Linked DNA regions of Homo sapiens. The protein of the gene in region 1 purifies or fractionates together with the protein of each later gene. This does not show direct contact. Each region holds a gene or a part of one and is shown on either strand. Other genes may lie near its edges.

What was found. Proteins that work in one complex are often made in the same cells at the same time.
Region 2: the proteins of DUSP4 (region 1) and NUP50 purify together in Homo sapiens (affinity purification with mass spectrometry, with the first as the bait; 2 studies listed by BioGRID). This does not show direct contact.

What each region holds. Positions count from the first base shown.
Region 1 is NC_000008.11:29,340,674-29,347,700, forward strand, and holds part of DUSP4 (dual specificity protein phosphatase 4), read right to left. Parts: intron 5,402-7,027; exon of another isoform or gene 4,857-5,401; coding exon of another isoform or gene 4,697-4,856; intron 1-4,696. UniProt on the Homo sapiens protein: Regulates mitogenic signal transduction by dephosphorylating both Thr and Tyr residues on MAP kinases ERK1 and ERK2.
Region 2 is NC_000022.11:45,180,924-45,187,950, reverse strand, and holds part of NUP50 (nuclear pore complex protein Nup50), read right to left. Parts: intron 6,666-7,027; coding exon 6,584-6,665; intron 4,550-6,583; coding exon 4,431-4,549; intron 3,499-4,430; coding exon 3,296-3,498; 3' UTR 1-3,295. UniProt on the Homo sapiens protein: Component of the nuclear pore complex that has a direct role in nuclear protein import. Actively displaces NLSs from importin-alpha, and facilitates disassembly of the importin-alpha:beta-cargo complex and importin recycling.

The DNA.
Region 1 (7,027 bases):
TGAGAAAGAAGGGAAAAAATGACCCTGGTACAAACTCTTCTGGATCTCAGCAATGGAACAGATGTCCATTGCACGTCCTCATGAATAGCTGTTCCGTCACCAAGAGACCAGAACAAGAGGAAAACGGGCTTAAATCTAAATAAACCCCTCATGCTATGTACAGGTTTGGGGCAAGGGAGTATTTCCTGACCTGAGAGTGGGTAAGCCCTGGAATGGTTATCTGTGGGATCATCTTCCAGAGAAGGGAGATCTTTTAAATAAAAAAAGAAGATGATGATAAATGGCCAGCTGAGCTGGGGTAGGGTGAGTGCTCCTATCTAGGAGGGGTGGAGGCAGGTGGGATACAGGGAGAGGCCACAGGGAGGCCATCCAAAAAGACAACCTTTCAAGCCCTATCTCTGGCTTTCTTGTGATCTCTGGGACTTCCTTTTGCGGCCAACTTCCAATCCACAGTGCTATCAATGTATGGCCCTGCTTTTATTTTTATTTTACAGTGTCTGTAGGGCCAGAAATGGATTCAATTGATTCAGTAGGGCCTGTGCGTTGGAGAACCACCATTCCAACAAACCCATTCAACTGACTCCAATGACAATTTGGCCAACAGTCCTGGATGTCGCTACCTTTGCGGTCTTCATGACAGTGACATAGGACCTCTGTGCCCTAGGGCCATTGATAGAAATTTTCCAATGTGCAGACATGTGACGGTGAGTCAGTCACTTGCGCCAAATCCCAACCCTAAAGACTGCTTCCTACTGAGAGGAAGGAAACGGTTCTCTACCACATCATGAGGCTTATAGAAACAGGGTGTACATTTTTTCCTCTCTGACCGGAGGCTTCTCTATTCCCCTCCTCTCCCTCCCTCAGGATATAAATGGATCTCTCTCTGGTCACAGGCCCTTGTTCCTGCTGAGTCACAGTGACCAGCCTCCCTGGATGGAAAACCTGCTGGTGGGGCTGGTACCGTCAGCCTCGGTCATGCTGGTGGCCTCGGCAGCCACTTCATCACAGAAGCACCCCCTCCCTCCCATCATAAACCCCTTTCCTTATTCGGCTGCCACCACTGCTGCCCAAAATGCAGTAATTAGAGGATGAGGGAAGAGGAAGGAAATATCTGTCTGCAGCTGAAGTCCTTCAGGGGCTTCTGTGATGGGAAACTTCAGTCCATGCTCCCTTTCGGAGAAAGTGGAAGGGAAACTCATTCATTAACAGTGGTTGATCACTTGTATCCCAAGCCATCACTTGTTACTCTATATACTTCTCTAGGATTTGAAAAAATTCTAAGTACATGATCCTTTTGTCTATTACATAATTTGAGCTATTAAAACACATTTTAAAACAACATGTTAGACACAGGTGGTGTCCTGCAAAAACTCACCACCAAGACAGACAAGCTATCGCCTGCACTCAAAAGTGAATGGTTGGGTGGCCCAGGAGTGCCAGGGCAGGCCCCACGGTCACAGAGCAGAGTGGCCCTCAGGGCTGGAGAAGCAGGAAGAGCCCAGAGCAGCTGAGAGGATGTTGTCTCCATTGCTGAGGGTATGGAACAGGGCACTGGAGTGAAGTTCCGAAAGGGCACAGGCTCTGCCATGAGGTTGCACCCCACCCTGAGCATGTATCACCTGTGCAGCCCGGGCCTCCTGAACCTCTCGGAGCCTCCTCCTCGTCTGTAAGTGATGAAAGTCCCCTGCACAAAGGCCTATGAGGACTGGTTCTGACAGCCAGGCTCTGTGCCTGGCATCAGGGAGACAGATCATGAAGTTTTCCCTTCTCGGTGCCTACATGGAGGGGTGCCCTCGGATGCCCTCAGCAGAGATCCTCAAAGGCCAAAGAGGAACCGGGGACAGGGTAATGCTGGTAAGGTACTGGGCATTTGACAGCCTGCTCTCCTGGAAACCTGTCTCTTGGTTTCCGGAGACCTCCAGACCTCCATCTTCTCTCCCAGGCATGGCCATGGCTGCCACTCAGCAGAACCCTTGTCAGGGACCTGGCACCGGCTGCTGGCCATGGAGTGGTGTGGGGGGCAAGGAGGGCCCAAGTGACCCATTTGGTGGGGAACAGGCTAGATGTGGCCTGAGAGGGCCATTCGTCATCTCCCCCAGGCTCATCGCAACTGTCTGGAAAAGGCACCATTAGAAGGCAGCAGAAAAATGATTACAGAAAAGTCAGTTCCCTCTGAGGGAGTTTTAAAGAACAAGCAAAAATGAACAAGGTGAGCTGGGCGCGGTGGCTCACGCCTGTAATCCCAGCACTTTGGGAGGCCGAGGCGGGTGGATCACGAGGTCAGGAGATCGAGACCATCCTGGCTAACACGGTGAAACCCCGTCTCTACTAAAAATACAAAAAAATTAGCCGGGCGTGGTGGCGGGTGTCTGTAGTCCCAGCTACTCGGGAGGCTGAGGCAGGAGAATGGCGTGAACCTGGGAGGCGGAGGTTGCAGTGAGCCGAGATCGCGCCACTGCATTCCAGCCTGGGCGTCAGAGCGAGACTCCATCTCAAAAAAAAAAAAAAAAAAAGGAACAAGGTGAAGAAGCAGATTCGCTCAAGGGGCAGAAACACTGGAAGGTTCTCGTCCCTGACAGTGGTGGCCAGCTTTTGGGGGTCTGTGGCTGGTTTCACAAGATGCCACACTAAAGGGGGTTCCTTTTGGTGGGCCCTGGGCTGCACTCAGGCCAGCACTCATGGGTGAGAACGATATGTTCTGGGCTGGTGGAGCCCGGAGGACACAGTGAAGGTGATGCGGGAGGATGCATGCAAGTTAGCATTTATCCATCGGTGGAAGAAGCTGCTCAAGTCCACCCCCCACAGGGCCATGCCCCAGTAAGTCATCTCTGGGTGTCAGTCTATGCCACCTCTGCCTTCCACCCCTTCCTGGTGGGCCCTTCTCCAGGGGGCACTGCCTGCAGGTTTCATCAAGTGAAGACAGACTTTTCATGCAAAAACAGAACTGATCCAAATAGGGCACTGCTGATATTTCACCAAACTCTGCTTCTACCCATTGGTTTCCTAATCCAGGCTGTCATTAAAGAGTCATGACCCACATTTTTAAAATGGAATACAATAGAATAGGAATTAGGAGGATGCACTGCCCTTAAAGAGGATATCATTTTATGGAACTTTTCTTCAGATGTGCATGTATCCCTCTCCTGGGTCACAATATAAATTAAAATGTGTTTCTTACTGTGGGCAGGGTTAAAAAAGATTATTCTAAGGTGACTTCCACTCAGTCCCTCCTACCCATCCCCAAATCCATGCAAGTACCATAGCCACAGCCCTTTCAAGAGCTAGATTTAGATCACCTAGTTTTATCCCAAAAAATCATGAAAGGGAAAGCTTATTCTCATTGTCTACAAAGGGGCTGGGCTCCTTCCCGTGCCCCTAGCAGGTGTGCAAGGAGAAGTGGAGACAGATCCAGGTGTAAGTCCAACTCAACTTGTGGAACTTGGACAAGTATGTTCCCTCCTCAACTCTGGTTTTTCCCACTCTCAAAATGTAAGAATTTCTGATTATAATGATCTTTAAGTTCCAATATCCTCTGCTTCTAAATATCCAGGATCTACTTATTTGCGTGTCAGTTTTGCCAGCTCTGAAGCAGCAGGTGCCTAAAATCTGCATTTCTATCTCCTGAATAATTTCATTATCAAATGTGCCATTCTGAATGAATGAATTCTGTTTTTCCTATGCCCTTTGAATGTATGAAATGAATGTATTGAACGTGTCTGTGTCCTACTGAATGTAATTCCATAAGAGGTTTCTTACTAATTTCAACCTGTTTTTCCCATGTCCTTATTTAAGAATATATTTTCTATTCCTAAATCTCTCATTTTATCACCTTTATTTTACAATTTGAAAGTCTGGAAGAAAAAAAGGAGTGTGATTTTCATCAGACTTACTTAAGAATAACTCCATCTACAGTTCAACTCCACTGTGCCTCCTCCTTCTCACATCCTCATACAGGGAGGCAATTTTCCAAGTTTAGTGGAAATGAGGACCCCTCATTAGAAGCCCTCCACCACACTCCCCCGTCCCTTGCAGGAGTAGGAGATAATGTATGTAAAAGTACTTTACAAAGGGCAGATTGATAATATCACCATAATAGGACTGTTACTGGGATTTGTGATGGGGAAGACTGTCCTTTGGTGGTGACTATGGTCATGGATCTTTTTTTTTTTTTTTTCCCCAGACAGGGTCTGTCACTGTCACTCTCTCACCCAGGCTGCAGTGCAGTGGCACGATTATGGCTCACTGTAGCCTTGACTTCCCTGGGCTCAAGCAATCTCCTTGCTTCAGCCTCCTGAGTAGCTGAGATTACAGGCACATGCCATCTCGCCCGGCTAATTTTTGCATTTTTTGTAGAGACCAAGTTTGCCATGTTGTCCTGGCCTCAAGTGATCTGCCTGCCTCAGTCTCTCAAAGTGCTAGGATTGCAGGTGTGAGCCACCACACCCGGCCTTGGTCATGAATCTTAATGTGGCTGCCACTTTTTCCCCATTATGCCCCCAACACTCAGAATAGTGCCAGGTCCCAGGCAGGGCTCATGGCCTTGCTCTTGCCAGAAAAGTCATGCTCTTGCAAGAAAGTCTGGGGTTGTTTGAAGGCCATTTGCCTTTGGGAACTCTACTTTATGTGACTGTTGACTTAGTAAGCACCTATGTAAATGCTGAGCTGTATTTAAAATCCAACTAAGTGAACTTCTCACCTTGAGACTCTGAACACAGACACCTGGACCTTCCTGCCAGCTGGCTGACACCTAACGCCATGCTGGGGGCTCGAACTGGTTTGCAGTCTCTCCCAGTCCTCCTGGGCGATCTGCTATGTTCAGCAAACTGGCTTCCGTTGGAGTGAACTTTTCTTCCCATCGTGCTTCCTCTTCGTTAGCCAGGAACTGCCTCCCGGTAAGGAAATCGGCTCTCTGGTTTCAGATGTTCTGATTTTTTTTCAAGGAATTTCTTGGCTCGGGAAAGTGGCCACCCTTTCTCTCTCCCTCATTTTTCTGAGCAGTCCATTTTTGTGGGTGGAGCCCACCTCTCCTATAAGCACCCAGGATAAGCCCAAGGAAGTTGTGACGGTCTAAAGGGTCAAATTTCACTCTCAATTTACACCTACATCTGTCTTTAGTTACTTTTGTTAGTTGGAGACATCCAATGTAAATGGTGTCTAACATAGTGAGTTTGCTTCATTGTAAAAAATCACCTGTAAGACCTAGCAACTTATGCTTCCAGTCCTTGGCTGTCATGGGCATTGTATTACATTTGTAAGCAGAAACTACCATATTTGCAAGCAGAAAAGCGAGTCATTTTCCCTTTAGGTAGAAAAGGTATGCAATATTGACATCCCCCAGAGCTGTGCTGTTTGATGCCATTGCCCTCCTGGGGAACTGAAGACAGAGAGAGCAATGGTGGGGCTAGAGAGAGAAAAAACAGAAAAATGTCACCAGAGTTTCCAGAGCTGTTAATTGTGTTCCTCTCCCCCCACATTCATCAGTGGCCTTAGTGACTGTTTTCTACAGAAAGGGTAATATCATGGGCTGTATGGTCAGGCCCTGGGCTATTGGATGCTATCCGGTACTATAGGGTGAGTGGAAGGAGAAACTGGAATATCTAGATGATCTTCCCCATTTCTCCAACAGCTCCAGGACAGCTTTTAAATTAGAACTGACAAAGGCTGAGGGAAGTTTTAGGTAGGTGGAAAGGAAGGTAATGTTTTTATACCTGCAATCTTTTTGCATAACAGATTATTTTGTTATTTGGGGTTAATAAAGGCAAAGAATAGGGTAAGAAAAAGCTCTTTTTGTCTTTCTCTAATGACCAGGGGAGTCTCAAACTCTAATCCAAGGATTTACGAATGAGAGAGAAAGGGATTTCAAGAAGTGTATTGTGATAAAATCTGAAAAACTAAAATTTCCAAACTGACTCTAAAAATGCCTTACAAGATTTTAAATTAAATGAGTTTTAAAAAAATTACCCCACTGGAAATCCTTTACTAGCAAAGATAGAAAACATTAGATTTTTCGTTATTGCTTTTAGCAAAAGTCGGGTAATCTGAGGAAATGTAAAGGCTAGGCTGTACTTTCTTGATATTAAGCGAAGTTTACCTCCTGCCACCTGCATGGAGTAACCAGTTCAACGTGGTTGAAGTAACCCTTCAACGTGGCAGAAATAGAAAAACTGAATTTTAAAATGCAATTAATAGAATTAGATAGCTTTGGCTGGACATGCTACTATCACTTCTGAAAATACTCTTGTTGCTTTTACTGCTTCTCCTAACCCCTCCAAGAATGGCAGACACCAACCATCAAGCCTTCCACTGGCTTCCTGTCCTGCTTTACAGACACGCACAGGCACACCTGAAATGAGACATACATACATTCCCTCGCTGGAAAATAAAATGAATTACTCCAGTAGGAAACAAATTCTCCAACCCTTCACCAATTCAGGCATTTACTAAAGATAATCTAAGGGGCTTTTTCTTCCTTTGCTTCTCAAAATTCCCCTTTAGGTCTCTGCCCCAGAGCCCCCTCCCGGGAAACCACATTTGCTCCACTGCACTGGCTTCCAGGCATGGAAGGGAGGTGTATCTGGAGACCTGGGAGACACCTTGATTTCCTTCCCCAGCCCCTTCCCGCAGAGCTGTGGGAGCAGATACTGACTTTTTCCTTCTGACCTCTCTAGGGATGCCTTTCCATTAGAGGGCAAAGAGGAAGAAGAGGAACTGGGTTAAAGATGGCCTCTGCTGAACACATATGTCAAAATCAGCTAAGCTAAACCGAATAGGGCCCAGTTAACCTCAACGATGTTCACCACAACAGAGCAGGCTGGAAGATTCCCCCACCTCTCAATTTTAGGTGCTTGCTTCCAAGGGCAGGCTCCCTTTGGAAGCAGAAGCTGAACTTCTGGCTAGGAGGGGCTATTCTAGAAGAGACCGAAGCTAAATCTGTGGCCCAGGCCTGCACACCTCCATCTGCAAGGATGTCCACTTTGAGATGCAGAAGATGATTCTCCCTGCCCGCGTCGGGGCCGACTACGAGAGG
Region 2 (7,027 bases), on another chromosome or scaffold:
TCAAAAACTAATACAAGCTGAGATTATATTGTCTGACAATTCAAGTATTTTAGTTTTAGAAAACAATTTCCTATTTAAAGTAAAAAGCAAACAATTTATCCATCTGATTGCTAAGAAGTTTTACATCTCCATTACAATTGTGTCTGCATCAAACGGAGAGTCCTTCGTCCTCAGTATGATTGTTACTGGCTGAGAACATACGGTGACCTGTGTTCTGAGTGCCTGCTTGGAAAAGACCTCCCTGTCATCTGCCATACTACGGGACAAATCAGTATCTACTCAAATTCCCACTTCCAGAATGAGAGGACTCATCAGGGGTTTAGGAGTTTGCAAAGCCTTCAAAATGTATCGTGCTTGAATTTTGACTCTTCTGAAATAGAATAACTGACAAATGCTCAAAAAACAAACTTGTTTAACTTTTACTGAAAAGGCTCTCAGTGAAAACTTGTTTTGAACTCTACTAGTAAGGTAGAATATTAGTTTTTCTTCCCCTCCACACCAGAAAAGGCAGTTTTCTCTTTTTTTTTTTTTTGGCATGCAGCATATATAAAATGTGATCTAGAATTGAAATTGTAAAACAGAATAATCCTCTTAAAGAAAATCAGCCTATGAACAGTCAGACTTGTCCTTCCATGGAAAACATAATCTAAACTTCTTTAAAAACTGGCCATATTTTTTCAGTCTGTAATTCGAATAATGAAGATGGCATAACAAATTTTTTTGCTTACTAGGAATGCGCAAAAGGATGAGATGGATACACAGGTTTTAAAAAAAAAAAAAAAAAGGCCACTGGGATATTTAGTATTTGTCCAGATGCAAAACAATTTCAGAATAACAAAATACACACCTTGCTTTAGGCCACGTATATGATACACTTCATAGATTCTCAAACAAAAGATGAAAATTTCAGTCCACATTAAACATTTTAAAGCATAACTTCTAATATTTTGTTAAAAATAAGTCAAACTAAACGCATAAATCAGAATTACCTGTTAACATAGTGGGGAAAGTAGGGAAGCCCTCCAGGGGCCCCGTGCCCCAAGTAAAAGACAAGGAGTTAAATTTTACAATGAAATCCACGTATACTCAGGCTCTTTACACTAATAATCAAAGTGGAGACCAACCAGTTCCTAAAGCATAAAAGAGTGATTTTAAGAAAATATCACATTTTGAGTTACGGTATATTCATCACATTTTTCCCTGTAATTTTCACTTTAACAGTGATAGTCTTAGCAGCAAAAATTTGCTGGGAATGTTAGGAAAAAAGGAAGCCACACATACCTACTAATTTAAAAATATATAAACTATTTTTTACAGAAGGGCAGGTTTAAAAGAAAATCCAATCATGATCTTTTCATGCCATTTTTTGTCAACTTTCCATACACACGCAGACGCTAACAAAGTACTGTGTCATATACACTGAAGTGTCCTGAAGATGCCTGTGAGCTGCTGATTCCAGCTGGTACCAGGGAAGCATGTGTGGCTAAGTTGCAACAAACTTAAATTTGTTCCCCTTAGTTCTTCATCTTTTTAAAAGCTGAATAAACTTAATGTCAATCGGGTGGGGCCGGTATTAACAGCATCAACCGCTTGCTTACTATGAATCATCCGCAACAGAAACCCACGTGCATTCTCCATTCTTAAAAAGTCAGTGTAAAACTAACGGCCACTTCCTCCCTAGGTGCCTACTATCGCTATGTCTGACAGCATCTGTAACAGGACAAGCTCACCTCTCTCTACACGGATTCATCCAAAGCCACACACTAGGCCAAATTCTCCCAGTGGAATCAAAACACTGGAAGTAGAGCAAGAACCTCATGCCAACATTGGCCCAATCACACCTCAGTGACTTAGGAGTTCATCATATTTGATCATAAAATTGCTCCCGGCGCCAAACCTTACACCTAAAGACTGTAGTTTTAAAAAGCCACTGTACCGTCCACAATTATTCTGACCACTCTTTTCTAAATGGAGAATGTGCTACGCACTGAAGATCAGAACACACACGCGGGAGCCCTTGGGCACTGACCCTGAGCCTGTACACAAGATCAGCTGGTACTAGTCTCAAATGATTCATGAGGACTCAGTGGAAATTTAAACATTCAATTCTGTGTATCATTCATGTGCCCAGAGTCTTCAAAGAATGCTCGTGTTAGTTACCTGACACCTCTGGAGAAGTGACAGGGATATTCGTGTGAATAACCATGGCTCCCTTCCAGACAGACATATGGAATCTTACTCTTAAAAAAGTAAAGATATTTCAGATATCAAATGTATTATAATATACTGCGGTCTAAAGTTAAAGGCAAAGTTTACACACGATTTTCTCTTCCATGACTTTATTACATGTTTCCTAGTGAATTCACACGGCTCGTGTGTCAAAGCTCCCAGGCACGTCACTTGGTCACAGTTTTCATGTGCGTGGGGTTGATCATGGTACAAATGCCTATGCGCATCTTTTTCTCGGATGGTCTCATTTGACTTTCATTTCGTAAGGGTTCACTCTCCATGGTGTAGATGATAAGCTACCACATTTGTGCTTTTAAACCCATTCCTGGCAATCCCCCTTTATCTTCATTTTGTCTTTAGGGGGATAAAGAAGTAACACTACCTCATGAATAGAAACTATGAAGCCAAAAAACTCCTTCACAAGCTGTTCATTTCTTTTTAGAATGAAAATGCAGGTCCTGAATTCTCGTGAAGCAGCCCACAGGGTTACAGGCCAATGATTCGAACGCTGAGGTGAACACTTAGTACTCGCATTTGAGCTTCAAAGTAAAAATAAAGCAGAGGACAAACGCCTGTCACAGCGTGGCAGCCCGGTTCATTTGGTAACAGAACAAGTCTCACACGTCGGCTGAGCCCACCGGAGAGAAGCACACAGGCCAGCTTCCTTCTGAACACAGCCAGGCACCTGTTCAAAAGCCTCTCTCGTGGTGGCGGTGGACCCCAAAACCCACGGGTTGGAAGAGCCTTTGGGAAAGCAAATTGATACCCTGATTGCAGTCCTTGAAGAAATCACTTAGGGTTAGTTTAATAAACGAACATTAAAAAATCTTCCAAAAATTGCATTCAAATGTATTTTACACTTTAGGCAGTTCTTAAGAAGGGAGAGTGCAGTTTCTTGACACTTAACATTTAAAGGTTTTATTGGCCACATTAATCTTCCTCACAAAAGTTTTAAGTTATCTATAAGTTCTTAGAATGTCAAAGAAGAGAAGAAAAACTGACTAACTTTAAGGGGCGGTGGAAGCAGCAGCAACTTGGCAATAATTCTGCAGCCGACTTTGCGTGTTCAGGCATCCTTTTTCTCCAGTAAAATTTTGTGCAACTCGTCTGCATCCTCGCTGGTTTTTACCCGAATCAACATGGTGACTGGCATGGTGGCATTCTTCTCGTCAATTGGTGGATTTGGAACACAGACGATAAGAACGTTATTCTTCCCTGTTCGCGTACATGGCATATTGGGTGGAATCAGAACGTTCAGCAATATGTTGCCTGCATTCAAACAAACAAAACCCATCAAAATTATAGAAGCTATAGCTCCACCAAAGGAGTCTGTAATATGCTAAACATTAAATGCTGAAATAACTTAATACATCTAAGACAGGGAGCCAACAGGACAGCACAAAATCAGGACTGGTTCCCTGAGAACTGGGAGGCCTCGGGGAGCACTTGCCCTCACTGTGAGGAGTGGCCTTCCGTCCTCCCTCCAGCCCGGGTCTCTGCACCCACACAGCGTTTCTCTCAGAGCCAGCAGCCTCGCTCAGAACCGTCAGCCCTCTCAACACTGTCCGTCTTTGCACTGAAGGAAGAACACGGTGGCACAACCCAGTGTCTTCACTGCGCCACACGGACAAAGGACACCTCTGTCACAGGCCGGCACAGCTCCCTGGGCAAAAGTGACACGACCATGTTATTACTCCCTAGTCAAGCCCACGGGAAAGAAAAATGCCTCCCTGGAGTTTCTGCAACACAGCCCCCTGTTCTCTACCACTACTGCCCGCTCCACCGCAGGCCTGCCCCGTCTTCCTCCTCCTCCGGGCACTAGGATCCTTGCAGTGGACTCTTTTCAGGTTAAAACTGAGGATGGACAGCAAGCAGTTAGTCATTACTTGCTATATAAAAAGGATTCCTTTAAAAGGTTAATTTCCCTTGGGTGTTCATTAAATGGTCTAATCTCTAGCTTCTTAGTCACATTTCTAACACAAAGGAAAATGAAAAATCATTTTGTTTACAGCTTCTAACACATTTATGTTTCCTTACACACTATTATCCTGGGACTCAAAACTATAAATAAGTAAATACAGGATGAATTTGGCCTGAATGCGCTCTGTTTAAAAACATATTAATAACCTTGAGTCAGCAGGGTAAACGCTTTTATATACTATGTGATGATGATTTTGTGCTAACTGAAAAAAGGTACCCACCTAAATTGGTGTCTGCCCGCACCAAAAGCTGTGTCTTCTGATTTGCTGTAGGTTTTAAATGCAGAGTACCTATGCCTTTCTCTTTAAACTCATTGTCTTTCTTGTAAAACAGTTTACACCTATGGAGAAAAATAATAGGGACCATCAAGCATTCAAGGACGAATCAAGTCACACAGTTTTCTAACAACCACTCTTCACACTTGTGTGGAAAATCTCTATTAAATGAGTACAGGAAGCTTCAGGATAAATCTTTAATTGATCCAAACAGAGCCTGAGCAAAAACCAGAATAAGAAAATCTGCTTAGAGATTTTAAAACTCCTCCCCATTTTTTCAAATTAAACAGTGGGCCCCATGAAACTTTTTATAACACTTTCTGAAACTGTGTTCTCAAGTCAGTCAAAATCAGGGCTCAACACCAACCCCCCCCCCCCCCCGCCCCCAACCCCTGCCATTCTGCTCCTTTGGCCCTGAGCTCAAGATCGCCGATCTGGTCCTCTAAAGACAGGAACAAATAAAGGACAAAGACCCTGTCCTATCTCGCCCACCTCTCCCTCCTTTTTTTTTTGTGGCCTATTTCTTATTTTAAAAATTCTCCTCGACCAGGTGCGGTGGCTCACGCCTGTATCCCAGCACTTTGGGAGGCCGAGGCAGGCAGATCATGAGGTCAGGAGATTGAGACCATCCTGGCTAACACGGTGAAACCCCGTCTCTACTAAAAATACAAAAAATTAGCTGAGCGTGGTGGCGGGCACCTGTAGTCCCAGCTACTCGGGAGGCTGAGGCAGGAGAATGGCATGAACCTGGGAGGCGGAGCTTGCAGTGAGCCGAGATTGTGCCACTGCACTCCAGCCTGGGTGACAGAAAGAGACTCCGTCTCAAAAAAAAAAAAAAAAAAACAAACCTCAAGGCTCTTTCAGTTTTTGATTGCACAACATTTTTAAATAAATTTGGAAAACATTCTTGGGTAGGGTCTAACTAATAACAAAGTAATCAAATATCTTCCCAGCCTCCTGTGCTATGCATCTCCTGAGGTTATTAATACAAAACCATGGCTCATGTATTGATTTATGTATTTCTTTTGAGACAGTCTTACTCTGTGGCCCAGGCTGGAGTGCAGTGGCATGATCTTGGCTCACTGCAACCTCTGCTTCTCAGGGTTCAAGCAATTCTCATGCCTCAGCCTCCCAAACAGCTGGGATTACAGGCGTGCGCCACCACATTAGGCTAATTTTCATATTTTTAGTAGAGACGGGATTTCACCATGTTGGCCAGGTTTGTCTGGAACTCCTGACCTCAGGTGATCTGCCTGTCTCAGCCTCCCAAAGTGCTGGGATTACAGGCATGAGCCACCATGCCTGGCCTCATTTGATTCTAATTAAAAAAAAAAAAAATCTTAAAGTTGGGTCACTCCTTTATGTCATGTGAGTAATGAAATTTAAACACAGAAGAAATTGTTGGCCTCTTTTAAAAGTTCTTGAAACTAACACCTGGGAATCCCACAGGATGTGGTGACCTGTTCATGGAAAACTGCTGGCTCATTATTCGGAAATTTTTGCATTACAAAAACACATCTTTGAAAGCTTCTGAAATGGCACAGATGTTTTTTCAGCAAATATCTTTGTAAAAACTAATCTCATTTAATTGAAAGGAAGATGAAAGTTTTTATAAGTCCTCAACAGGAAGGGACGGTTACTGTGCTTAACTTTTTGACTATGAGAAAATCCAGAAAGGCCAACCAAGTCTCCAGGAAGGGATGAGAGATGCCTTCTGAGGCCAAACCTGAAATCACTGACTGACTCTGCGATTTCTTTGTTGGGGAGGAGGAAGGGGAGGGAGAAAGACACAGGGAGAGAAGACGGGATGGAATGGGATGGGATGGGATGGGGTTGGGAAGATCATGGAAGATCCTGTCTCTAAAGCACTTTAAAAGAGCTAAAGTGACAGAAAAGAGTGAGACCTGCCCACCAGGACATTTCTAGAACTGGATTTTTAAATAAACTGGCCAAGAATTCTTTCCTGTTCCACTTGAGAGCAGGCAAAGCTTGACCCCGAGACTGGAAGCTCAGTCAAGTGCCGTGAGGACATTCTCCAGCCTGAAGCATGCCACCATGCCTGCAAAACACATGCGCCAGCAGGTTGTGGGGATTCTTACTTTTTGGAGTAAAAAGCATCTTCTTCTTTTACTTCGGTAACTACTACTTTGGGTGGCTCATCATTCTCTTCTTCATCTCCACCTTTTATAAAAATGACAATAATTCAGTAAGATTCCAATCCAGAGCTTAAAGAAGTGACTGAAGTTTTGTTACGTAACACCCTAAACCTCCACCGGAGCACTCCATGTAAACTGACAGACTAAAATGCACACTTAATGGGGGGGGGGGGGGATGCCAGAAGGGAGTACCTGCAGGATTTTAACTATTTTGTGAAAAATAAGAATCCCTTTTAATGGGAACATACCTCTTAATTCTAAAATAACTTCCAATATATAGAAAACCTTAAAATGGAAAAATCTCCATGCTTATGACAGAAAAAAAAAATCAACACTCTATATGCAAATTACCCACTGGAAAATTCCATCTCGGATGAGTTTTTAACA